Linked DNA regions of Homo sapiens. The protein of the gene in region 2 binds, or shares a complex with, the protein of the main gene of each other region. Each region holds a gene or a part of one and is shown on either strand. Other genes may lie near its edges. A codon is read from its position in the direction of its gene.

Region 1 (5,948 bases), on a different chromosome or scaffold from region 2:
ATCTAATCCTGAGTTAATCTCTGAGCTTTGTCTCACTGACTTTGATCAACTGTTTTAGATAATGAGATTATGTATTACAGAGTACTGTATGTTACATCTTTCATATATGACTCATTGTTGAAATTAAATTGAGTATGGGCTCACATACATTAAACAGATTAACAGACTGGAAAGGAGCCATACTGTCTAAGTACTTCACTTATTTTTCTGATTTTATTGAGTTTTACATATAATTTATAATTAATCTCAGGTGATCATTTATTCAGCAAACATTTCTTGAACTCCTGGGTGCCAGACATAGGTCTAGGTGCCGGGGACAAACAAAACAATGAAAACAGAATCCCTGCTTTTAGTCTAAATAATGTATTAGTGGTAATAAGTGATATGAAGAAAAGTAAGGTGAAGAGCTGGAAAATGTTAGTGGTTGGGGAGGTAGTGTGCTCCTTCATAAACTGTGATCAGGAAAGGCCTTTTGGATGAAGTGACTTTTGATCAGAGACCTAAGTTGAGCGTGAGAGGAGTGAGCCTTGTGACTGTCTGGGGGAAGAATCTTCCAGGCAGGAAAAATGCAAAAGCCCCAGGTTGGTGGGAGTGTGCCAGTGTGGCTGGAGCAGAGTGAGCAAGGGAGGGGGGCAGGTGGGATATGAGGTCAGAAGGGTAGCAGGAGGGCAGGTCTTGTTCAGCCATGGTAAAGGGTTTGGCTTGACTCCTGGTGAAATGGAAAGTCTTGGGTGTGGGGGCGGTTTAAGCAGAGAAATGATAGGATCTGATGTATATTTTTAAAGGATCATTAAGTCTGGTGTGGTGAATAGACTCTTGGGGGAAGAGGGAACAAAGGTGGGCATAGAGAGACCAGTTAGGAGGCACTGAGAGGAGGGGAGGGATGGTAGAGTTTTAGAATAGAGGAGGAGGTTGAAATGGTTGTTTTGGAGAATGGAAGCGAGAATAGAGAAATGTAATAGGATTGCCATGCAGCAGGAAGGGCTCAGTTGAGGTTAGTGATACATTATAGCAAGATGTTTTGTTTCTTTCCTATCTTGTTCAGCTGCTTGACAGCAGGTGCAATTTGTCTGTAGGAATCTGTAGATGAGTTCAGCAAGGAGGGAGTGGTAGATGGAATGATCTGATAGAATGAGTTTCAGTGGGGCTATGGAGTTTTAGGGATGAGCGAGATAGAAGCAGCAATGAAGAGCAATAACTCATATTACCAAACCTCCAGGGTTAAGGTAGTGTGTGAGAGAGAAACAGTAAAGCAGTTGAGGTATTTACAGAAGCAGTGTCTTCAGGGGCTAGCTAAGTTTCCCTTAGAGTAGAGGTGGTCATCTATAGCCCTTATGCCAAAACTGGTTTGTTTGTTTTTTTTAAGTTTTATTGGAACACAGCCAAGCCCATTTGTTTACATAATGTTACCTGTTGTCACATATTGTCTGTGGGCACCTTCTAGCTACATGTGGGGTTGGGTACTTGTCACGCCTACAAAGCCTCAAGTATCTGGCCCTTCACAAAAAAAGTTTGCTGACCCCTATGTAAGAGCAAGAAAGTAAAAGGAACAATTAAAACAGTCTCAGAATTGGTAAATAAACTGATGTTTTTCTTTATCTTGGATTGTTAGAACCCTTACAGTTCATTTATGTGACATAAATATACAAATGATTTAGAATGACATAGTTACATTGGGTCTTTTTTGCAGATCGTGATACTGTAAATGAAAAACTTGCTATGTCATTTTAAGGTTTCTCTTTCAGGTGTTGACCAACCATAAAGATAAGGATGTGTCCTTCCTAGACACTTAATAGTAGCTACAGAGTATAAAACTTTTCCCAATTGCCTTTAATTTTGGTTACTGTGTTCATTTTCTCATAACATCCTGATGATTTGTTTTGACCATATTTGGCCTTGTTTATTTTAAGAACATTTCATTTGATTTTGAGACAATAGAAAGTAAGCTTTGCTTAAAAGAAAAGAACTTCAGTTTTACTCTATTGCCCTGGACTAGAATCATAACAGTATGAGACCTTGAAGAAGTCATGCAAGTCCTCTTTTTTTTTTTTTTTTTTTTTTTTTTTTGAGATTGAGTCTCTGGGCTCACTGCAAGCTCCACCTCCCAGGTTTACGTCATTCTCCTGCCTCAGCCTCCCGAGTAGCTGGGACTACAGGCACCCACTACCATGCCCGGCTAATTTTTTTGTATTTTTAGTAGAGACGGGGTTTCACTGTGTTAGCCAGGATGGTCTCGATCTCCTGACCTCGTGATCCGCCCGCCTTGGCCTCCCAAAGTGCTGGGATTACACTTGAGCCACCACACCCAGCCATGCAAGTCCTCTTATCCAGACTTTGCTTGACAGCAAAGTGACTTTCCCAAGTGGTCATCTGCCATTGGATGGGAAATTTGCTCTAATTATGTCTTGGATGTTTGGTCTCTCAGTAGGGTGTTAAGTCATGTAATTTACTGATCAAATTAGGACACTCAAGAATGGAAAGGGTGGTATTAATAATGATGGGACACCACGTGTAAATCAGGACTGTTCCAAGCATGCTGGGATGGATGTGTGGTCTCCTAAACATGAGCTTTGGGCAAATTACTAAATGTTTCTGTACCTCAGGTACCAAATATTACGTTCTACTTATATTACAGGACTGTTGCAAGTTTGAGGGAGAGCATATATTTAAAAAGCCATTTTCATAAAGCAGAAAGCACTGTGCACATGTACCATTTCATTATCCTTTCTTTCTCCTTTAGAAATTTAAGATCCGCATTGAAGACCCACCCCGCAGAAAGCACATGGTATTCCTGGGTGGTGCAGTTCTAGCGGATATCATGAAAGACAAAGACAACTTTTGGATGACCCGACAAGAGTACCAAGAAAAGGGTGTCCGTGTGCTAGAGAAACTTGGTGTGACTGTTCGATAAACTCCAAAGCTTGTTCCCGTCATACCCGTAATGCTTTCTTTTTTCCTTTATTGCCAATCTTTGAACTCATTCAACTCCAGGACATGGAAGAGGCCTCTCTCTGCCCTTTGACTGGAAAGGTCAAGTTTTATTCTGGTGTCTTGGGGAAGCTTTGTTAAATTTTTGTTAATGTGGGTAAATCTGAGTTTAATTCAACTGCTTCCCTACATAGACTAGAGGGCTAAGGATTCTGTCTGCTGCTTTGTTTCTTCTAAGTAGGCATTTAGATCATTCCTATAGGCTTCCTATTTTCACTTTACTGCTCTAATGCTGCTAGTCGTAGTCTTTAGCACACTAGGTGGTATGCCTTTATTAGCATAAAACAAAAAAAACTTTAACAGGAGCTTTTACATATTACTGGGATGGGGGGTGGTTCGGGATGGGTGGGCAGCTGCTGAACCCTTTAGGGCATTTCCTCTGTAATGTGGCGCTTTCAACTGTACTGCTGCAGCTTTAAGTACCTTAAAGCTTCTCCTGTGAACTTCTTAGGGAAATGTTAGGTTCAGAACTAAAGTGTTTTGGGTGGGTTTTGTTGCGGGGGGGAGGGTAACAATGGGTGGTCTTCTGATTTTTATTTTTGAGGTTTTGTCAACTGGAGTACGTAGAGGAACTTTATTTACAGTACTTTGATTTGGCAGGTTTTCTTCTACTTGTGCTCTGCCTGGAGCTGTTTCCATATGATATAAAAAGCAAGTGTAGTATTCCATTACTATGTGGCTTAGGGATTTATTTGTTTTTTAAAATCAACCATGTTAGCTGGGATTAGACTCCCTACAGTCCTTCAATGGAAAAGTAACATTTAAAAATCCTTTGGGTAATTCGAATTACAGATTTAAAAGAGCTTAAGATCTGGTGTTTTGTTAATGCTTCTGTTTATTCCAGAAGCATTAAGGTAACCCATTGCCAAGTATCATTCTTGCAAATTATTCTTTTATATAACTGACCAGTGCTTAATAAAACAAGCAGGTACTTACAAATAATTACTGGCAGTAGGTTATAATTGGTGGTTTAAAAATAACATTGGAATACAGGACTTGTTGCCAATTGGGTAATTTTCATTAGTTGTTTTGTTTGTTTTGATTTGAAACCTGGAAATACAGTAAAATTTGACTGTTTAAAATGTTGGCCAAAAAAATCAAGATTTAATTTTTTTATTTGTACTGAAAAACTAATCATAACTGTTAATTCTCAGCCATCTTTGAAGCTTGAAAGAAGAGTCTTTGGTATTTTGTAAACGTTAGCAGACTTTCCTGCCAGTGTCAGAAAATCCTATTTATGAATCCTGTCGGTATTCCTTGGTATCTGAAAAAAATACCAAATAGTACCATACATGAGTTATTTCTAAGTTTGAAAAATAAAAAGAAATTGCATCACACTAATTACAAAATACAAGTTCTGGAAAAAATATTTTTCTTCATTTTAAAACTTTTTTTTAACTAATAATAGCTTTGAAAGAAGAGGCTTAATTTGGGGGTGGTAACTAAAATCAAAAGAAATGATTGACTTGAGGGTCTCTGTTTGGTAAGAATACATCATTAGCTTAAATAAGCAGCAGAAGGTTAGTTTTAATTATGTAGCTTCTGTTAATATTAAGTGTTTTTTGTCTGTTTTACCTCAATTTGAACAGATAAGTTTGCCTGCATGCTGGACATGCCTCAGAACCCTGAATAGCCCGTACTAGATCTTGGGAACATGGATCTTAGAGTCACTTTGGAATAAGTTCTTATATAAATACCCCCAGCCTTTTGAGAACGGGGCTTGTTAAAGGACGCGTATGTAGGGCCCGTACCTACTGGCAGTTGGGTTCAGGGAAATGGGATTGACTTGGCCTTCAGGCTCCTTTGGTCATAATTTTAAAATATGGGAGTAGAAAACAACAAAGAATGGAATGGACTCTTAAAACAATGAAAGAGCATTTATCGTTTGTCCCTTGAATGTAGAATTTGTTTTTGATTTCATAATTCTGCTGGTAAATGTGACAGTTAAAATGGTGCATTATGTATATATATTATAATTTAGAAATACCATTTTATAATTTTACTATTCCAGGGTGACATAATGCATTTAAATTTGGGATTTGGGTGGAGTATTATGTTTAACTGGAGTTGTCAAGTATGAGTCCCTCAGGAAAAAAAAAAAATTCTGTTTTAAAAAGCAATCTGATTCTTAGCTCTTGAAACTATTGCTACTTAAATTTCCAATAATTAAAAATTTAAAATTTTTAAATTAGAATTGCCAATACTTCTACATTTGAGAAGGGTTTTTTTAGAAATACATTTAGTAAAGTCCCCAAGACATTAGTCTTACATTTAAACTTTTTTCTTTAAAACATGGTTTTGGTGGTTAACTTTTACACAGTTCTGAGTACTGTTAATATCTGGAAAGTATCTTGAGATATCAGTGGAAAGCTAAACAGTCTAAATTAACATGAAATACTTCATTTTGATTGAGAAAATAAAATCAGATTTTTTCAAAGTCAATTTGAATTTTGTCATTTCTTTCTAATAGTTATTTCTTGTTTCATTTTCTTGTTAATGCAAGATGAATTGACAGTTTATGCTAGTTGTTAGGTCAAGTTCATGTCAGTGTTCTATTATTGACAAAACAACTCATTATTTCTGGTATGATTTTATAAATACATAAGAAAATAGAATAGCGATTTATAGCTACATCAGAGGCTGTTTTCTTCCAACAAACTGTTTTGTCTCCCAAAAGATTTAAGGTGGCTTTCACAGAATTAGAAATGCTAAAGAGACCTGTATGTAACATGCCCCCTTTCAAGGACATATTAGCTCATCTGCAGACTTTTAGGCATATTATTTTTAACAAATAAAAGAAGGATGAAAATACATTTAACTGACCTTTTCTTGTTTTATACTAGCCTTGAGGATGAGGGCTGGAGAGTAGAGAGAGTATTTTTGCCTTTCCTTCTTCGTGGACTTGTATGTGCAAACCTCATTGCCCGCTTCAGGGCCGGAGTCCCAGACAGCGAACGTAA
Region 2 (7,790 bases):
TCAGCTCACTGCAAGCTCCGCCTCCCGGGTTCACGCCATTCTCCTGCCTTAGCCTCCCGAGCAGCTGGGACTACAGGCGCCCGCCACCACGCCCGGCTAATTTTTTCTATTTTTAGTAGAGACGGGGTTTCACCGTGTTAGCCAGGATGGTCTCAATCTCCTGACCTTGTGATCTGCCCGCCTCGGCCTCCCAAAGGGCTGGGATTACAGGCTTGAGCCACCGCACCCGGCTTTTTTTTTTTTAATGGATGGAATCTCCTTCTGTCACCCAGGCTGGAATACAGTGGCACGATCTTGGCTCATTGCAACCGATGCCTCCCCAGTTCAGGTGATTTTCCTGGCTCAGCCTCCCGAGTAGCCAGGATTACAGGTGCATGCCACCGTGCCAGGCTAATTTTTGTATTTTTAGTAGAGACGGCGTTTCACCATGTTGGTCAGGCTGGTCTTGAACTCCTGACCTCAGATGATCTGCCTGCCACAGCCTCCCAAAGTGTTGGGATTACAGGCGTGAGGTGACTTTTATATCTTTTTTTTTTTTTTGGAGACGGAGTCTTGCTCTGTTGCCCAGGCTGGAGTGCAGTGGCGTGATCTCGGCTCACTGCAACTTCCACCTCCCGGGTCCAAGAGATCCTCCTGACTCAGCCTCCCGAGTAGCTGGGACTACAGGCGCACACCGCCATGCCTGGCTAATTTTTTGTATTTTGGTAGAGATGGGGTTTCACCATGTTGCCCAGGCTGGTCTCAAATTCCTGAGCTCAAGCAATCTGCCCGCCCCGGCCTCCCAAAGTGCTAGGATTGCAGGCATAAGCCACTGCTCCCAGCCCAAGTTTTATATCTTAAAGAAAGAAGAAAGGTTCCTCCAGAGGCCTCGAAACAGGAAGAGAGTTAAGAGGCTGTTTGGATAGAAGTTGATGAAGGCTTGGACCAAAGCAGAGGGGATGGGGATAAAGGAACATGGGCAGACTTCACTTAAGTAGATGCTTGAGGGCGTGTTGACATTTGGCTGGGGTAGAGGGGAGGCAGTGCACGGAGAAAGCTGAGTTTGGGCCTAGGTGTCTGGAGGCACTGATGGAGCAGACAGCAGACTGGGCAGGGTTGGGGAAGGAAGATGATGCATGGCTTTGGTAGCTTTACTTCTCAGGCACCTCTGAACTCTCTTGTTCCGCATCATGTCTATCAAGGCCCAGAGTTTCTACCTTGTAATGCTCAGCCTCATCTTCTGGGGGCTTCAGTAACTCCTCAAGTGTGCGGACCTCCTCGCTGGTGATGTCAGCACAGTAGGGCTCCACTGAAGCCCAGAACCTGCAGGGAGAAGCAGATCCTGAGTGGGCGCCCCTGCCCCACCAGTGCCTCCACCACCAGAACCTTGAGGCCCCCTTCTATGTTCTCTAGCCCAGAACCTGTTGGGGGCATCATTTTTGGGGATCCGTGGCACGTCGATAGGGTCATCAGTGAATTCATATTCCTGGATCTTGGGCTGAAGGTTTTTGGATTTGGGCCGTCCTGGGCCAGGGCCCGGCCCATGTCCTGCCTTCCCTTCCAGTTTCTGCTTCTTGGGCTTCCCATGTTTGGGGGGAGCTCCAAGTTCATGGTCTCGACCCAGCTTCAGGAATCGTCTGTCACCTTTCTTATCCTGCCAGTCGGTGAGGATCTGAAATTTACAGAAAGTGTCACTGAGGGGGAGAAGGGAAAACACAGAATATCTCTTTCCTCTAGTGAATAAATTAGGATCTAGAATCTACAGAGGCTCCTGGGTCTTTCCCCATCCTCTTTTTACCTAGTAAACTCTTACTCATCCTTCAAAATTCAGCTCATTTTCTGTGCCTGGCCTCCTAGAACTTTATTCATATACTTCTCATAATCTCATTCACTTGTTCATCTATACTGATTCACTTCTGTATCACCCATGCCAGTCACATACTGTTTAACAGAAGAGTCCTCTCAGCAAACCTTCACTTCGATGTCACCACTACTGAGATGCCTTCTCTCAATCAGTTACCCAGGTTCTTAGATGCTAAAATACAACTTGAGTCATAGCCTTCCTCAAGGAGGGTCCATGGATTCCCAGGGACAAGTTAATTCCATTCATCCTTTTAGGTCCAGTTGGCACCTCCTTCCTCCACAAGTCTCTGGCACTTCACAGCTCCAACGTGCACCCAATCGTGTTGTTTGGTCACACTGGAATGACCATCACACCTTGTCTCTTCAACTAGACCATAAGCTACTGAGGACCAGAAAGCCCACCTTAACCATCTCTATTTTGCAGAATACAGCATAGCGCCTGGCACACAAGGCTCAAGGCATCTTTATGCAGTGAATAAAGTCATCAGAGTAGCAAATAAATAACATCTGAAGTACTTACTTAGTGTCTGGCATTGGGCTGAGTTTTTGCAAAAAATTCTCTTTTAATCCTCACAAAAGCACTAAGGTAGGTCCTATTATTCACCCCACTTTGCAGATAGGGAAACTGACACTCAGAGATATGAGGCAACTTTCTCAAAGTCACATAGCTAGGAAACAGCAATGCTAGCAAGCGCTTATGCCAGGATTCAAATCCAGGTTTCCCCATTCCAGTTCCCTAGGACTGCTAACCACAACATCACATCACCTGGTATGTACTTGACTTTCTCACTTTCCTAGTTGCCAAGCTCCCTGACAGCCATAACTGTCCTAATTACCTTTCTCTAATGACTAGCATAGGACCCAGAACACAATGGGGGATGAGTGGGGTGCCAATAAAAGCTTACTGAATTAGAAATCTTGCAATTTAAGAGGATCATGCATATTCTTGTGTATTTTTTGTGTCATGCAAACCCAGTTTGCGTCTCTCTCCCTCTCCCCACAAACCCCTGTACCCCAAGTCTCAGCATATGGGGCTAACTCAATGACCCATCCCATAACTTGTTGCAGTCCATCTCTGGTGCTGGCCCCTCTCTGGGGTTATCACCTGGGTTTCGGCCTCAAGCACACGCAGGCGCCGGCTGGCAGAAGACAGCAGGGTCTCCAGCTCCAGCTGCAGGGTGTCCAGCTCCTCGATGCCGATGCCATCATCCTCAGAGCGTGCCAGCACTGCCGTGTAGCGGGGACAGACCTTCAGGTGATCCACAGACTTGAAGTCGTGGAACTGCAAGGGGCAGTCTTTCAACTCACTCATGGCCCAGGATATGGGGATCCTGTGGAGCTGGAGAGGACAGGGCCATTGATGGGAGACAAAGTGGTCTGAGAAAAGCCCAAGGGCTTCTTACCTCCAGGGACAGCCTCAAGGAAGCCCAGCTTCAGTCCCTTACTGACAAAATTGATGGCACAGTTCCTACTCACAGGGCACTTAACTGGGTACCAAGCTAGGTGCAGAGCACTTTATCAGTTTATCTCACTGAATTTCTCACTCAGCACCATGAACAAGGACCATTGTGATCTCGTTTTTACAGAGAAAGAAACTGAGACTCTGTAAGGGTGGGTATGTGCCTATGCTTCCAAGATGCAATTTGAACCCCGCTAGTCTTGAGTCTGCACCCTGATCACCATGCTATACTGCTATGCCTTGCCTCGCCTTTCTGATGCTCTTTCCTTCCCTTCTATTTCTCTTGGGTTCTGCTAAGACTTTGAGTTCCAAGCACCCCATTCTTACCATGTTCTCTGGGACTCTTGGCCTCTTTTCTTACCCTATTCCACCTTTCTCCCTTCTCTAGTCACTAACAGTGGTTTAGAACGTGGGCTGGTAAGCCAGACAGACCTGGGTTCAAGCCCAGGCTTTACCATTCTCTACTTATATGCCCCTGAACATGTTATTTGACCTTTTTCAGTCTCAGTTTTTCCATCTGTAAAATGGGGACAAAAGAAGTCTCGGTCTGTTTCCCCATTAAAAGTCTGAATCTGAAAAATGGGGATAACAATAGTACCTACCTCCCTGGGATGTTCTGAGGATTAAGAGATGATGCCCGTCAAGAGCCCAGTTCAGTGTCTGGCACAGAAGTGGGACTGTTTAATGGCTGGCCCCGCCCGGGGGTCGCCCAAATGTCCCGCCTTCAGAGTCCTCGTTCTCTAGGGACACCCTAGTGCGACCCCCGCCCCCTCTACCTCCTCGCTGCGGCCTCCTACGGCCCCAGGGGCCGCGGGAGGGGGCGGGGAGTTCCGGTCGATGTGAGCAACCGCCCCGGAACTGGCTATGGGCGGGCCCCTTGCAGTTGACGCGGGGGCGGGGAGTCAGCGAGGGCGAGCCTACTGGAGTTTGCCGGGGGTGGGAAGAAGGTGGGCCTCGAGCAAAGCCGCTAGAGGTGGGGTGCGGGTGGTCGGCCTCAGGCGAGCCCCGGGGCACAGCCCGGGGCGGGAGGCGGAGCTTGGCGGCCGAGATCTCCGCGCTGCAGTTAGCCCCGCCGAGCGCCAGGAGCTGCGGGTAGGAGGGGCGAGAGAAAGGATGGGGGTACAGAACCGGAAGAAACGAAGGGCTCGTCCGCTTCGGCTTGTCCTAATTTGGTGCCCAATCTGAAGCTGGGCTGTACCATTGCATACCTGGGGGAGGCTGTGGCAAAGGTGACAAGAAGGCCGAAGGCACAAAGGGAAGCTGCACCCATTCCTGGAGGAGCTTAAATAGTGACTCGAGTGCAAGAATTTAAAAATACCGAGACAGCCCTAGGTGGAAAACTTCCGGAAGGCCCAAGCGTTCGTAAGGGCTCTCTACCCCGCTCGGAGCATAGATGGTACCGTCCGGAAGTCCGGGCGGAGACCGTAGCTGCGCTTCTCGCGAAAGGGCAGGCATCGCGGGGCTGGCCACTTCCGTACTTCCGCTTTCCGGCCCAGCCAGCGCCCGCGATGGTGAGAGAGCCGGGCCCCCGGCCAGGGACCCCCGGCTGTTCGGCCTCAGGGCAGTGGGTCGGTGGGAGATGTGGCTTTGCCGCAGGGGCGCGGGGCCGAGGGATGTCCGGGGGTTGTGGGGACACGATGAGGGTGGGAAAAAGAGACGGGGCGGGGGCCCGAGGTGAGGAAGGGGCGAGTGGGGGTACTCCCTGGTATGAAGTGGGCCTTGTGGCTTCACGGTCAGCCTTCGAAGCAGGTAGGGGCTTTTCCTGAGCCCTGTAGGAACCCGGAAGTGGGGTCTCCTAGGCTCTTTGGAGCATTTCGAGGGTACGTAGTCGGCCTCTTAGCCTCTGAGGCATGAAGCAAGTCCACCTGCCTATCCACAGTGGAACTTCACGACATACGCCCTTTGTCCTCTTCTGCCTTCCTGACCCTACAGTTGCTTAAGGCAGGCGGCCACACTTCCTTATCCCATTCTTGGTACCTCCAGCCCTGCTTCCACCCCATTGGAGGATCTCTCGTGTTGCTTCCATTCAGGCCCTTCCTGGTCAGAACTGAACTGTGTCAGCCTTAGTGTATGTTAGCTGTGATACTGCTCATCCCTCCCTTCCTGGAAGTCCTCCCTTTTTCATACATGTGGGCCTTTTTCATACATGTGGGCCTTTTTCATACGTGTGGGCATTCCTGGGAGTTGTGACTTTGGATGACCATCTCCCTCTTCGTCACACCTTCCCTGGTGATACCGATCTAGTCTCCTGGCTTCGATAACTTTCTTCATTCTGATGACTCCTAATCTGGCTTCTCAGCTCTCTTTCAAGGTTTGCCTGGATATCTTGAAGAGACCTTGAAATTAGACCTCTAGTTCAAAACTCATATTCTATTCTAAATTTGTTCTTCCTCCTGGGTTCCCTATCCTGGCAAACTTTTGTGACCTCATGTCTCTGCTAAAAATCTGTATTTTTTTTTTCTAGTGGGGCACATGCCTCTTGATTTTTAAAAGTTCAAGTTTATTGAGGTATTACATGAGACTACATCTGTTTTATTCATGAAAGGACAGGCGTCACGGAGCCAGTCACCCTTTTTAGGTTTACTTTCTATAACTGTTGACAAAGGCCAGGCGTGGTGGCTCACGCTTGTAATCCCAGCACTTTGGGAGGCAGAGGCGGGCGGATCACGACGTCAGGAGATCGAGACCATCCTGGCTAACACGGTGAAACCTCTTCTCTACTAAAAATGCAAAAAATTAGCCGGGCGTGGTGGTGGGCACCTGTAGTCCCAGCTACTCAGGAGGCTGAGGCAGGAGAATGGCGTGAACCCAGAAAGCAGAGCTTGCAGTGAGTCGAGATCGTGCCACTGCACACCAGACTGGGCAACAGAGTAAGACTCCGTCTCAAAAAAAAAAGCGTTGCAAAAACTTGCTGGGTATGGTGGCATGCGCCTGTAGTACCATCCGCTCAGGACACTGAGGCAGGAGGATCACTTGAGCCCAGAAGTTCGAGGCCGTAGTACACTGTGATCACTCCTGTGAATAGCCACTGCACTTCAGCCTGGACAATATAGCAAGATCCCGTGTCTTAAAAAAAAAAAGTCAAGTTGTGTAACCACTACTGCAACCAAAATACAGAACATTTCCGTCACCCCAAAAAGTTCCCTCAAGCCCTTTTGTAATCAGTCCTCTCCTTCCCACCCCAGACAACTACTGATTTTTCCCCCCTGTAGTTTTGCCTTTTTCAGATTGTCATGTAAATGGAATTCTTTAGTATGCAGGCTTTTAAGTGTGGCTTCTTACCATAATACATTTGAGAGTCAACCATGTTGTGTGTATCAATAGTTACTCTTTTTTTATTACCAAGTAGTAGTTAATTGAATGGCTGGACCACAGTTCGTTGGAAGTGGTTTTTCTTTTTCTTTTTTTTTAAGACACAGTCTCGCTCTGTCACCCAGGCTGGAGCACAGTGGCGTGATCTCGGCTCACTGCAACCTCAGTCTCCTGGGTTCAAGCAATTCTACTGCCTCAGCCTCTCAAGTAGCTGAGATTACAGGCACCCGCCACAGCTAATTTTTTGTATTTTTAGTAGAGACGGGGTTTTGCCATGTTGGCCAGGCTGGTCTTGAACTCCTGACCTGAGGTGGTCCACCCACCTCGGCCTCCCAAAGTGCCGGGATTACAGGCGTGAGCCCCTGGGAAGTTTTTTTTCAGTTCCATTATCCACTCCATCTAATGTCAGTCCAACGCTTGTGATACTCTTTGCTTGTGATACAGTCTGCTGTATGTCTCACTTCCCTCTCCAAATCATTCTCCACAGAGCCATCATGCAGCTGCAGTCATGAACTTCCTCCTCAGAAAGCCCCAGTAGTTCCTTACCCCCTTAAGAGAAAAGCTAAACTTGGTAGCCTGGCATTCAAGATTCCCCATGATCTTACCTCAGCCTACCGCTGCAGCCTCATTTAGTGAATCTAAAATGCTTCTCATATACAGAAACATTGTACTCATTACTACTCTGGAACTCTTGCTGTCCTTTTGTGTTACTCTAATCTTAATTATTTCTTTCGCTTATTTATTCTACAGGAAATGAGTGAGACACTGTATATGTTAGGTACTGAGCTAGGTTGGAGGCTATATAGCTGTGAATAAAATAGATATGGTCTGTTGACCATGAGGTTTACAGCCTAGTAAAGGAGAAATCACTTACAAAGGCATGAAGGAGGGCAGGTGCAGTGGTTCATGTCTGTAATCCCAGCACTTTAGGAGGCCGAGATGGGCGGGTCACTTGAGGTCAGGAGTTTGAGACCAGCCTGGCCAACATGGCGAAACCCCATCTCTACTAAAAATACAAAAATTAACCAGGCACGGTGGTGCACACTTGTCATCTCAGCTATTCGCATGGCTGAGGCAGGTGAATCACTTGAACCCGGGAGGTGGAGGTTGCAGTGAGCCAAGATTGCACCACTGCGCTCCAGCCTGGACAACAGAGTAAGACTCTGTCTCAAAAAAA
Region 3 (7,046 bases), on a different chromosome or scaffold from region 2:
AGATGTCTGGCTTTTTATAAGTCAACATGGGTCCCATTCATATATTCATTCATTCATCAAATGATTGCTAAGCACCTTCTATGTGCAAGACACTGTGATATAGTAATATACAAAGTAGTACGATTCTGGTCCTTGAAGAGTAGAGAAGACAGACAGAAAATAATCACAGGATGGGATGGGCGGGGTGGCTCACGCCTGTAATCCAAACACTTTGGGAGGCTGAGGCGGACAGATCACAAGGCCAGAAGATCGAGACCACCCTGACCAACATGGTGAAACCCCATCTCTACTAAAAATATCAAAATTAGCTGGGTGTGGTAGTGCATGCCTGTATTCCCAGCTACTTGGGAGGCTGAGGCATGAGAATCGCTTGAACCCAGGAGGCAGAGGTTGCAGTGAGCCGAGATGGCACCACTGCACTCCAGCCTGGCGACACAGCAAGACTCTGTCTCAAAAACAAACAAACAAACAAACCCCTCCCCCCAAAAAAACAAACAAACAAAACCCAACAGAGTGAATCCAGGGTGCTCTATGTGCGATTGGAACCAGTACAGGGATTTAGAGTCCTTTTTTTTTTTTTTTTTTTTTTTGGAGACAGAGTTTCCTAGGCTGGAGTACAGTGGCAGGATCACAGCTCACTGCAGCCTCAAACTCCTGGCTCCAGGTGATCCTCCCACCTCAGCCTCTTGAGAGGCTGGGAGGACATGCACTACCACATCCAGCTAATTTATTTTTATTTTTGTAGAGGCAGGGTCTCATTATGTTGCCCAGGTTGGTCTCAAACTCCTGGGCTCAAGTGATCCTCCCATCTTGGCCTCCTAAAGTGTTGGGATTACAGGCATAAGCCACTGCACCCAGCCTAGAGTCCTGGCTTAAAACCTGGTTTTACCATTACTAGGCAACCTTGTCCAAATTAACTTCTCTGAGGCTCCGTTTCCTCTTCTGTAAAACAGGAATCATGGTACCTACTTCATAGGGTCGTTATGAGGATTAGATGGGATAATTTATAAAGTGTGTACCCCAGAGCTCAGGAGTCAAATGGTAATTATGGGATTCATAAAATATGCATTTGTGAGGCTGAGCGAGGTGGCTCATGTCTGTAATCCCAACACTTAGGGAGGGTGAGGCAGGAGGACTGCTTGAGCCCAGAAGTTTGAGATCAGCCTGGACAACATGGTGAGACTCTGTCTCTACTAAAAACACAAAAACTTAGCTGGGCATGGTGGCGTACACCTGTAGTCCCAGCTGCTCAGGAGGCTGAGGTGGGAGGATCACCTGAACCGAGTTTGTGTCACTGAACTGCAGCCTGAGAGACAGGGTCACACCCTGTCTCAAAAAAAAAAAAAATGTATTTGCAACTATGGCTTGCTCCTTTTCATCACAGGTATGCTTTATCTAAAGCAGCCTCCGCCTTCCCTCTCACCAACTGTCTTGTTACCCATCTAGCTTCTTTTTTTCCGGGGGGGGGGGGGGTGGTGGTACAGAGTCTCACTCTGTCACTAGACGAGTGCAGTGGCACGGTCTCGGCTCACTGCAACCTCCGCCTCCTGGGTTCAAGCGATTCTCCTGCCTCAGCCTCCCAAGTAGCTGGGATTACAGGCACGCACCACCACGCCTGGCTAATTTTTGTATTTTTAGTAGAGATGGGGTTTCACCATGTTGGCCAGGCTGGTCTTGAACTCCTGACCTCGTGATCCGCCCACCTAGGCCTCCCAAAGTGCTGGGATTACAGGCGTGAGCCACTGCGCCTGACCACCCATCTAGCTTCTTTATAGCATTTGTCACTACCTGACACTACCGTATGTATCTCCTTTATTATGTTTACACTTTTATTGTCTCGACTCCCGATTTGAATGTACATTCTTTAAGATTAGGGATTTGTTGAACTTATTTGCTGCTGTAAATACAGCCTGGCAGGCAGCAGGTGCTCGTTAACGTTTGTTAAAAATAATGTGTGAGCAGGCTGGGCGCGATGGCTCACGCTTATAATCCCAGCACTTTGGGAGACCGAGGGGGCGGATCACCTGAGGTCTGGAGTTCCAGACCAGCCTGGCCAACATGGTGAAACCCCGTCTCTACTAAAATGCAAAAAATTAGCTGGGCGTGGTGGCGCGCGCCTGTAATCTCAGCTACCCGGGAGGCTGAGGCACGAGAATTGCTTGAACCAGGGTGGTGGAAGTTGTAGTGAGCCGAGATCGCCTCACTGCACTCCAGCCTGGGCGACAGAACGAGACTCTCTCAAAAAACAAACAACAAAAAAAGTGTGAACAATCACATAATAACTGAACCACCTTTTCCCGAATCTGCAAAATGGAGACCATGACGGTGATAAATCTACCCCACAAACTGGCTGTCAGAAATTAAGTACAACCAGGCCGTCATAATTTTTTACTCCCACTCTGATGGCACACGAAAAAGGAAATCTTTGGAAGTCAGGCGCCGAACGAGTCTGTGAGGGCCCTAAACCCAGCTGGCTCCGGGATGGCCGCCGCTGCCGGGAAGTGGGTTCTGACAAATGACAAACAGCAGAGGGAGCCTGACCCCGGGGCGGAGGAGGAAGTGGGCCTGACAGAAAAAGGAGAAGCTAGACCCCTGGACTTGAAATATGAAAAATAAAAAGCGCAGCCCTTGGCTTCGCTCTCTAGTGAGGCTTTGGGAACCCTGCCGGAGTCGGAAGGAGTAGACGGAGAGAGAAAAGGGCCTCCTCACACACCCTGGACCCTTGGCCCACTCCTGCCGCGCCCCCGCCTCCCACGACTGGCACCCCCGGGCCGCCCCAATCCTTCAGCAACCGGTCCCCTCCCCTCGCCTCCCTCCTTCTCGGGCCCCAGCTTCCTCTCTGCCTTCCGCCGCCCGCTTCTCTCGGCACACACACGGTTTCTCTCTGCTCTTCGCAATCCCCGCTGTCTCCCCACACCGTGGATCGAACCCTCACCGGCATCTTGGCGGCGCCCGGGTTTCAACCCAGAGGAGCAGGATCCAGGTACAGCGGAGCGCTTCCGGTCTGGCAGCCTGGGCGAGGTAGGCGGAAGCGAAACGGAAGGGGCGGGTGCGGACGTGGAGCTTCCGGCCTTGCAGTTCCGCTTCTGGTTGCAGCGGCCGCGCGGATCTGAAGGAGGCGCCAGAGCACTAGGCAGGGGCCTTGAGTGGTGCAGCGTGAGGCAGCGCCCAGAATGGAGATGGGTCTTGAGGTTCCAGAATCTGAGATCAATCACCTCTTTTGTATTTTTTTCAAATGTCACCTTTTCAGGGCCGGGCATAGTGGCTCACGCCTGTAATCCCAGCACTTTGGGAGGTCGAGGCGGGTGGATCACCTGAGGTCAGGAGTTCGAGACCAGCCTGGATGGTGAAACCCCGTCTCTACTAAAAATACAAAAATTAGCTGGTCGTGGTAGCATCCCAGCTACTCGGGAGGCTGAGGCCGGAGAATCGCTTGAACCCAGGAGGCAGAGGTTGCAGTGAGCCAAGATCGCGCCGCTGCACTCCAGCCGGGATGACAGTGTGACTCTCTCAAAAAAAAAAAAAAAAAAAAAAAAAAAAAATCACCTTTCCTGTGAAGCATTCTCCGTTCATTCTATTTTCAGTTCACCCAACTCCAGCCCCATGCCTTATCCTTCTCTCCCGCTTTTTCCCTTAGTTCTTACGATTCTTGTATTTAGTTTACTCTTAGTGCTTGTGAATGCCAAAAAGGCAGCACTTCGTCCGTTTTGTCACCTGCGCCCGTAACAGTGACGGTATGTAGGAAACATCAATATTTGAGTGAATGAATGAACCCAATGCACTGCATCTAAAAATGGAGAAACTGAAGGGCACTGGACTCCAGGTTTGAATCGCAGCTCCAATACATACTAGCTCTGTAATTTTGAGCAAGTTAACTGGCCTGTGCTTCAGTTCCTCACCTGAAAATGGCAGTAACAGTATTTACCTCATAGTTTTGTGAGGATGAAATGAATTACATGTAAAATGCTTAGAACTTACATGCTTGGAGCATACTGAAAGCCCAGAGTTTTAACTTATTTATTACTAGAAAACTTCTTATGTTAAAAGTCAAGTTCATTGCTGCCTGAGAGCCATTTCTTCTGCCAGTTCCCAGCCTGAAATAGGACCCCATGTTCCCACATCTGATTTCACATTCAGCTGACTGGGCAAATAGCACCTTTTAGGCAAGGTCTTTTTTGACAAAGAGCCCAAAGTAGCCCCATAATCACTCTCCATTTCTTTTCTGCTTTTCTTTCCATCCTCTCTCTGAGGTTTCCTTCCTCATGGTCAGTCTCACAGGCCCAGCATGGCAGCCCCACGTGAGCAAGGCCCTGCCTGCACTGTGCATCCCTGTTCTATCCCCAGTGTCTGGCATCCACGGAACTTCAGTAAATTTGTGTAAATTTACTGAATTTCTGTCAGCCCTGCCTATGAGACAGTGAAATCCTCGAGGACTGGAATTGTCAGATTCATCTTTGAAACCCCAGTGTCCAGTGGGGAAGGCACTGGAATCGGGTCCTTCACTTTTTCTCCACAGGCACATACCATACTCTCTAGAAGCTAAACCAGGGAGGACCAAGGAAGAGGGCAACTGAAAATCTGCCTCTTCTTTCTTCCCCTCCCATGTGACAATAAGTTTCTAAGAATTAGCAACCCTGGGAGATCAGGCTGTTTCCACACTATCTATCCTCTAAGGGCCACAGGAAGGTCCCCAGGCAGCCCAGCACATCCCCATGTTGCCCACTCATCATGCTCCTCCCTGAGTGGACCATGGGGTAGACACCCGACCCTTCCCTCTAGCCTGGCCCCCAGGCATAAGCTACCACCGATACTTACAGGTCCTCACATTTTTTTTTTTTTTGAGATGGAGTCTCACTCTGTTGCCCAGGCTGGAGTGCAATGGTGCGATCCTGGCTCACTGCAACCTCCACCTTCTGGATTCAAGGGATTCTCCCACCTCAGCCTCTCAAGTAGCTGCGATTACAGGCACGCGCCACCACGCCCAGCTAATTTTTTGTATTTTTAGTAAAGACAGGCTTTCACCATGTTGGCCAGGTTGGTCTTGAACTCCTGACCTCAGGTGATCCACCTGCCTCGGCCTCCTAAAGTGCTGGCATTGTAGGTGTGAGCCACCACGCTTGGCCACATTTTGCTTAATTAAAATGAATCAAATTAGACACTGCAGTGTACTTGTTATCTAGGTCCAAGAATCATTAAAAACCTTTGTTTCTTTTATATATACACATACATATCTCAAAACATAGTTATTTTTACTTTTTAAGTTATATAAATAATATACATTTTCAATATAGGAAAATGGGAAGATACAGATAAGCAGTGGTCTTATATATATCCTTGCAGCTTTTTCCCTTCGGACATACATATTTTGTTACAGTAATTCCTGCATCTCAAAAATAATACAAAAAGTGAAAATAAGTTTAGACCAGCCTTAACCTTAGCTCAGGTGCTAATTTATATATAAATCTATGTGCATTCATTTCAATTTTGACTTACAAAATCTAAAGTGATGCTGTTATAATACTAAAAGATTCCACTTTAAACAGCAGCAGTTTCAGAATAATTAAAAATTTGATTCAGGCATGAGGCTGATAAAGAACGAAGTTTTACTTTTTTTCATTAAAATAAGTAGCTTTCTACTATTGCATCCTTTGAAGAGAAGAATGTTCTGCTGGTTTGGCCACAAGCTCTTTAGATGGTTACTTTTAGTAAACTCTTCATTCATCCTGGCATTCTTGAAAATATTCGTCAAACATAGAGGAAGACTCATCTTCACGTTCCTGACACAATGGAAACACAAAATAGAAAATATATTCATTTCCCCTCAGTCAGAACTAGTATGTGTTTATATATTTTTCAGGTAATACCCTATGTGGAACTAATTACCCAGCACCAGCTCCAGGTGCTGCTTATAGGTAACTGTTAATAGTAAGAAAAGGCATGATTGACAGATTTTTTTCCAGTTATGTAGTAAATTAATGTGCTTCTATCCCAGAAGCATTTCTCATTTGAATTTACATTCAAGACGATTCTTGGCTAATTTCCTGTGATAGTGCTTTACTTCGCTGGTAGTCTAGTGGTCAGGAAAATAAAAAATAAAAAAATAAAAAAATGCTTAGCTGATACTATCATTAGTCTTCTCAATGACATACGTGAGGGCAGCCCAATTTCACCTCCTCTTTACACATACACCCAAGCTCTAAGTACACACAGGCTTCATCATACTGCCTCAACAAAAGTAGAGTAAAAGTGATACTGCTTGTGGAGTACAGTGTTAATTTCAGAGATCACCCAGAAAAGCCCAGTTAACTGCCATCAATAAGACAAAAAACTAATTTAAGGAGTCGCCTGGATTATGCAAGAGTCCAGTGAGTGCTGGCAAATATTTTTATCAAAAGCTAACAAACACCCCAAACCAGAAATTACCTTTGGTTCTTTAAATTCTAGGTCTTCTCCATATTGAATGGCAAAATCAATATGCTGCAATACAATGTTCATGCTTTCTTCATCTGACTGATCGTAAGGTAAAAATCGAACCATGCTGTAGTCATCAATCTACAAGTTGTGGATTTCAAGAAAAGTTCATTCTGAAGTTGTGCAAAATACATAATTTTCAACTTATATTTGAGTTTTATAACCATTTGTACTTCTGAATAAAAACACTGATGTGTTTACAGGAAGAGGAGGAGAAGGGATAGCTAGACACAGAGAGTAAATCATTGATTTTTCTGACTTCTGATCTGCTAGAACACTTGTTAGCTTATTACTTTAACTAGACACTGTTTCACGGCTATTTATCTGAATTCAACAACCACTGGAAATTTCACAAGAGAACAAACAGTCCTGAACTCTCCAAATGGCTTGAAATAATAAGATGTTAGTTTATTTATTGGCCACTACCAATAACTACTTCTAAATTAAACTGCTGACTGACCAGCCCACAGCCCTTTTCCCTCCACTTTGCAGAAAATAGGGTTGAACTGTGCTTTTTATATGGCAAATGACTGGACACAGGCAAACACTTGACCAGGTGTTTAGGAAAAAAACCC

The links.
Region 1: the proteins of ARPC4 (region 2) and ACTR2 are in contact, whole or in part, in a cryo-EM structure (PDB 6YW6), measured with the Homo sapiens proteins. Residues at the interface, in NP_005709.1 of Homo sapiens: Val29, Val30, Glu31, Arg32, His33, Lys35, Pro36, Glu39, Val40, Ala98, Glu99, Asn100, Phe102, Ile103, Leu104, Arg105, Arg106, Lys107, Leu117, Thr119; in NP_005713.1 of Homo sapiens: Tyr222, Val223, Tyr225, Gln229, Glu230, Lys232, Leu233, Ala234, Leu235, Glu236, Thr237, Thr238, Val239, Lys253, Thr308, Met309, Tyr310, Pro311, Gly312, Pro314, Ser315, Asp346 (codon at 2,762).
Region 3: ARPC4 (region 2) and ARPC3 share a complex: the UniProt entries of both Homo sapiens proteins name them as parts of the arp2/3 complex.

The regions. Positions count from the first base shown.
Region 1 is NC_000002.12:65,265,824-65,271,771, forward strand, and holds the end of ACTR2 (actin-related protein 2), read left to right. Parts: intron 1-2,740; coding exon 2,741-2,911; 3' UTR 2,912-5,430; downstream 5,431-5,948. UniProt on the Homo sapiens protein: ATP-binding component of the Arp2/3 complex, a multiprotein complex that mediates actin polymerization upon stimulation by nucleation-promoting factor (NPF).
Region 2 is NC_000003.12:9,788,313-9,796,102, forward strand, and holds the start of ARPC4 (actin-related protein 2/3 complex subunit 4), read left to right. Parts: upstream 1-4,769; 5' UTR 4,770-4,809; coding exon 4,810-4,812; coding exon of another isoform or gene 4,813-4,869; intron 4,870-7,790. Other genes in the region: TADA3 (transcriptional adapter 3), read right to left, coding at 1,197-1,302, 1,401-1,651, 2,948-3,154; ARPC4-TTLL3 fusion protein, read left to right, coding at 4,810-4,812. UniProt on the Homo sapiens protein: Actin-binding component of the Arp2/3 complex, a multiprotein complex that mediates actin polymerization upon stimulation by nucleation-promoting factor (NPF).
Region 3 is NC_000012.12:110,447,320-110,454,365, forward strand, and holds the start of ARPC3 (actin-related protein 2/3 complex subunit 3), read right to left. Parts: upstream 3,019-7,046; 5' UTR 2,942-3,018; coding exon 2,936-2,941; intron 1-2,935. Other genes in the region: GPN3 (GPN-loop GTPase 3), read right to left, coding at 5,715-5,777, 6,424-6,552. UniProt on the Homo sapiens protein: Component of the Arp2/3 complex, a multiprotein complex that mediates actin polymerization upon stimulation by nucleation-promoting factor (NPF).